Regions from separate parts of the Homo sapiens genome. Here region 2 is linked to region 1. The links come from fine-mapping of genetic effects on plasma protein levels. A gene starts in region 1. The other region holds a variant in brackets. All regions are shown on one strand. Distances are from middle to middle. Region 1 holds the start of KREMEN1 (kringle containing transmembrane protein 1). Region 2 overlaps KREMEN1 (kringle containing transmembrane protein 1).

Region 1 (2,500 bases):
CAAGTCCTAGCTTTTTCGCTAATCCAAGCCAATGAGTAAACAAAGCAACTCTGAGTTTTCTTACACCAGCAAAATCCCATCCTTTCCAACATCAGTCTGTGACTTTGGGTGGAGAACCCAGAGGCGGGTTTTCCTACTCCTGCAGACTGGTAATAAACTCTTCCCATCCCTTTCACAAATGGCCTATGCTCAACACCCAAACAGCCTGCAGAGAAATGCAACGCCCTCTTGCCTTCTCTTCCACTTAGAAAGGATTCGGCTACAAGGTTGCGTGTGGAAGTTAAGCAAAAGCCAAGCTTCATCCTGGTCCAGGGCCTCACCTCGGGAAGACCTGGCCTTGGCCTTGGCCTGGGTAGTGAGTGACCTGTCTAAGGTGTGGGCTGACCCAAAACACGGAGCTCGGCGTTGCACCCTCAGGAAGAGCACCCTAAACTCAGTTGGGGAGAAGTTTCCCATCACTGCTTCCTTTTTTCTCTCCCCCTTCTGCGCCATCACCTGAGTCATAGGGAAGTTCAAAGCGGCCCAGCGGAGAGAGAGGGCACGTCCCGTCCGTCTGGGTACAAGGTCGTCCCAGGACCCTAACCTGCCTCTAGCAGGGCGAACAAGTCCATCCCGTTCCTCGCGAGGCAGAAGTTATAATGTCCGCCAAGCGGGTGCAGCCGAGGACTCGGGAAAAGGGGCTGAGCGCCGGCTCCTCCCGCCTCCGCTCTGCTCTGCGCGGGGAGGCGCCGGGTTCCACCGGTGTAGGCGGGAGGAGAGGACTGGGGGACGCGGGGGCGTCGCAGTGAGGCTCAGGGAGGGGACCTTGGCCCAGGGGAGGGATGTCGCTGGAGGTCTCGGAGAGGGGCGTATAGCCTCTTGTAGCGGGGGAGTCGTCCCGGTGCAAGGTGCGTCGATGAAGGACTTGGGGCGGGATCCCAGGAGGTACTGGGGAGCAGGGGTCGTCCCGGCCCGGGAGGGGTCGCTGGGGACTTGGGGACGGGATCCCAGGAGGTACCGGGGAGCAGGGGGCCTCCTGGCCCGTGGGGAGTCGCTGGGGATTTTGGGACGGGATCCTAGGAGGTACCGGGGAGCAGAGGACGTCCCGGCCCGGGGGAAGTCGCTGGGGACTTGGGACGGGATCCCAGGAGGTACCGGGGAGAGGGGGCGTCCCGGCCTGGTTGGGGTCGCTGAGGGACTCGGGCAGCGGGTCCCAGATCCCGAGACAGAGAAGATGTCCCAGCCCGGGGGGCGTCGCAGAGGGTCTTGGAAGACTCAAGGCGGAGAGGGCCTCCTGGGCTGAGGGGCGTCGCTGAGGAGCACCGGGTCCTGCAGCCGGGGGACAGTACCGGGCCCGGGGGCGTCGATGACGGGCCTGGGGGTAGCCCGGGTCCCAGGAAGGGACCATCCCGGCCTGAGGGGCGTCGCCTAGGGGCGAGGGGAAGGGGCCCGGAAGGTCCTGAAGCGGGAGGGAGGGGGCTCTCAGGCCGGCCGGCCCTTGTCGCCCCTCGAGTGGGCTCCGCTCAGGGCGGGCGGCGGGGGGTCGCTCACACTCACCGGGTCCGGGGCCGAGGCCGGGGCTAGGCGCGGGCCGGGCCGCCAGCGTGAGCGCCGCGGCGGAGAGCAGGGCGAGGCGGGCGGCTGGCGGCGCCATGGGCCGTCAGTGCGGGGCCCCGGGGCGCGGCCCGGGGTAAAGGGGGCAGCGCGGGGAGCCGGGGGCGGCCATGGGAGCAGGACGCGGGGCCCGAGTGTAGCCCCGCCCCGGCCGCCCGGCCGCCCCGCCCCGGCCCGCCCAGCTCAGCGCCGCCACCGCCCCTGCAGCCTGGGGCCCGCCCGGATCCGCGGAGAGGCCCGGGGGGCGGAGCCCACTGCGCACGCACGCCCCGCCCCGGCCGCGCGCTGCTCCTGCCACTCACGCATCAGGCCCCGCCCATCTCTCGCCTCACCTGGGCCGGCCCAGCAGGGCCCTCTGTTTGTCCCATCCAAGGGTAGGATCAGCAGGTGAGGGGCGGGGCCTCGGCCCGGCCTCCAAGTCACCAAGCGGTTTGGCCGGGCTGAAATAGGCCGGGCTCCCAGTGACCCCTGCTCCACCCTCACTTAGGTCGTGACCCACGCGCGAGCTCAGCTACAGCGGTAATAATTACAACAGCAGTTTGCAAACTGTTTTCCCTTGCTTAGCTCATCGTAATGGTTAAAAAAAGAATGCTTTGGAGAGTTCACATCCCACTTGGTCACATGTAACACCTTGGACAGGTTTAAAGGAAAAATAGCTCTTACCTCAATTTCCTCATCTGTTAAATGGAGGTGATAATAGCTGCTACTCCTCAGAGCGCTTGCACTAAATAAGAATGCCTACAGCCGAGTGCGGTGGCTAACAACTCCTGTGATCCCAGCACTTTGGGAGGCCGAGACGGAAGAATCGCTTGAGCCCAGGATTCTGAGACCAACCTGGGCAACACAGCGAGACCCCATCTCTACAAGAAAAAAATAAATAACTCAGTGGTCCCAGCTACTCAGGAGA
Region 2 (3,010 bases), 39 kb before region 1:
CCTAGGGTAAATTCTGGCCTCTCCATCACAGCCCTTCTCAGCTCAGTTTCATCAACAGCGGAATGAGAATCAATACGGACCTCAAAGGGTTCTTGTGAGAAATAAAATGAGATAATGTAAATAAAGTAAATACCACAAGGCCTAGCAGAATAGAATGTGCTGAATAAATAGTGTTTGTCATCATTATATACAATAAGGCTTTCATCATTCACCACACAAACAAGAACAACTTGCTGAATAACAGAAAAATAAAATAGGCTGATTTAAAAGACAAAAATCAAAGGCAGCCACCTCAGAAAACGGTTTGATTCCGGATATTAAAATATTAATCTCTTACATCTGTATAGCATACAGCACATTTTCACATAAGTCAGCTCACAGGAAGCTCTAGCCCCTTCAGGGAGGCAGGACAGATGATATTATTCCTACTGGACAAAGAAGAAACCAGTCTAACAAGGTTAAAGGCCTTGTGTGGGCACACATAAGGCAGAATGGAGAGCCAGGGTAAGCTCCAGGATTGCCGACTCCCATTCCATGGGTTTTTGTTTTTGTTTTTCATGTCTCTGACCCCTTTTCTTATAGGACCAGTCTGGGCAACTAAATGAAAGTGACTCCCTGAGACCTGAGATTCAAGACTGAATTCTCAAACACATTAGTCCCTCAACACTCTGTTCACCACGAGGGAAGCCTCTGCGGTCCCAGTCAGCCTCTGAGGGGGCCACTGCCTCTGACTTGTCCTGGAAAGTGTGGCTCGAAGTCTAGTCGGAGAAGACACGTCATGTTGCTTCAAAAGCATTACTACTCAACTGAGTGGATTTCTAGATCGTGTCCCACCCTTAGCGCTTCCCAGAAGCAGGGAGGAAAAGCCAATTTGAAAAAGGATATTTGTCTTCAAATTCCTTTTTCATTTCAAGCTTACTTTGAAATCCTTGTGGCTTGGTCATGCATTTTTCCTCTTACCAAAGAGGCTTCATCACTTTCAATTTTTAAAAAATTATCTTAACATACAAATGGACCCCTTGTTTATCTTAGCTGAGGCTTCAAAACTTGTGAAAATTAATTACAAATATTCAGATGTTGAAGATAAAAATTTTGGAGGAGTTAAAGAGAGAAGGTCCTCCATTCACATTAACCCAGGAACTATTGTTCTTTTACTATCATAAGAAACAACTGGGAAGCAATCAGGCAGGCCCACTAAACATTGTTACATTTGAATATAACTGTGGCTTCATTGTGAAGGTACTGCACACACCTCCATGGGGGCCTCCATGGCTGACAGCTGTTCTTTGAGAACCACCTATTACCCACAGCACCTTCTCAGAGCATCTGCTCCCATAACTACTGCTGGCTGGGGACAAGACAAAGGGCTCCATCCTCTGGCCACAGCTGCCTCACACTGGGGCCACCAGATTCTCTTTCTTAGGAAGCTGGAATTGGGATCCGCTCAGTGAATGCAAGCACTGAAATTGTAGGGATTTGTCAAGTAGGAGTTGAGGCAACCAAACTCAAGTTTGAGCCACGTGAGTGGATGAATGAGCCAATTCTGCTGGTCCACGAAGAGGAAGAAGGATGGATAACAAGCTGAGAGAGAGGCAGAGAAGGGAGATGAAGTGGCCACAGAGACAGATAGTGAAAGTCCCTGCTTTCTTTCTAGTTTCTTGGGATACAGGGTTTGGGTTCTGTGATACATCCCAATGGTCTTCAAATTGATTTCTTTTGCTCAAGTTAGCTTGAATGAGTTCTAGTCCTGGTAACCAAATCATTATCGAAGACAGAAGGCACGGCCATCATAGTAAAGGCTCAGTTTGAATCTAAATCTTCAGCTGGTAATTCACTAAGAAGCAGCCCTGACTATTATTATGTTTTCTATTCCACTGCTCTCACCAGATCTGGGATATTTGCTTTAAGAAACCAGATGCTAAGTTCTTGTCCTATGTCTTAAAAAACTAAAAAACTCTTTCCAAGGCTCTGCAGAGCTCCTTTTTTTTTTTTCCTAAGTAAAATCTGCTTCTTCAGAAATGATGTAACTCCTCTGCTAATTTTTTTTTTTTTTTTTTTTTTT[TG/G]AGACGGAGTCTCGCTCTGTCGCCCAGGCTGGAGTGCAGTGGCGCGATCTCAGCTCACTGCAAGCTCTGCCTCCCGGGTTCACGCCATTCTCCTGCCTCAGCCTCCCGCGTAGCTGGGACTACAGGCGCCCGCCACCACGCCCGGCTAATTTTTTGTATTTTTTTAGTAGAGACGGGGTTTCACTGTGTTAGCCAGGATGGTCTCGATCTCCTGACCTCATGATCCGCCCGCCTCGGCCTCCCAAAGTGCTGGGATTACAGGCGTGAGCCACCGCACCCGGCCTAATTTTTTTTTTTTTTTTTAATAGAGACAGGGTCTCACTCTGTTGCCCAGGCTGGAGTGCAGTGATACAATCATACTCACTGCAGTCTTGAACTCCTGAGCTCAAGTGATCTTCCCATCTCAGCCTCCCGAGTAGCTGGGACTACCAGTGTGTACTACCATGGCTGGCTAATTATTTGTGTATCTTGTAGAGATGGGGTCTCACTATGTTGCCCAGGCTTGTCTCAAACTTGTGGCCTCCAGTGATCCTCCTGCCTCAGCCTCCCAAAGTGCTTCTCTGCTGATTTTAAATGTCATTTAACTCTGTGTCAATACTATCTTCTGCCTCAAGGACCCCACACTGGTGCCTCAGTAGCTGATTTCTCCCCTCCATGGAAAGAAAAACTATGTACATCTGAGACGCTGCAGCTGGTATCCTACTTCTTTCAGAGCATCAACAGGTTAAGTGTGGATTCATCCACACCCTCAGACCCGTGACCGTAAGCTCACTGCACCCTGTGCTGTTCATCTGCAACTTCCGTTCCAAATCTGACAGCTGCCATCTTGGTCCAACCCCTTCTCATGATATGGCCCCACACTACCTCTGTAACTTTATTTCTAAACATAAACTTCCTTTTCAGTCACTCTGATTCTTCCAACAGTCTTAATTGTGCCCCCGAGTCTT

The links. A credible set is the group of variants that fine-mapping cannot tell apart. PIP is the posterior inclusion probability: the model's chance that the variant is causal. Protein levels are from the aptamer-based SomaScan assay of Sun 2018.
Region 2: its variant is the best candidate, but not a certain one, in a credible set for the plasma level of the KREMEN1 protein (Sun 2018, PIP 0.75).

The regions. Positions count from the first base shown.
Region 1 is chr22:29,072,264-29,074,763 of GRCh38, reverse strand. KREMEN1 (kringle containing transmembrane protein 1) reads right to left here and starts at 1,729. Exons shown (of 9, transcript NM_001039570.3): 1 at 1,537-1,729. The coding sequence starts at 1,633. It also overlaps a transcript of C22orf31 not described here. RefSeq lists a silencer at 1,711-2,040.
Region 2 is chr22:29,110,667-29,113,676 of GRCh38, reverse strand. The region is part of intron 3 of KREMEN1 (kringle containing transmembrane protein 1); the gene reads right to left. Among named protein-coding and RNA genes, the nearest start is that of KREMEN1, 39 kb to the right of the region's middle. The variant TG/G (reference allele first, on the strand shown) is at 2,063.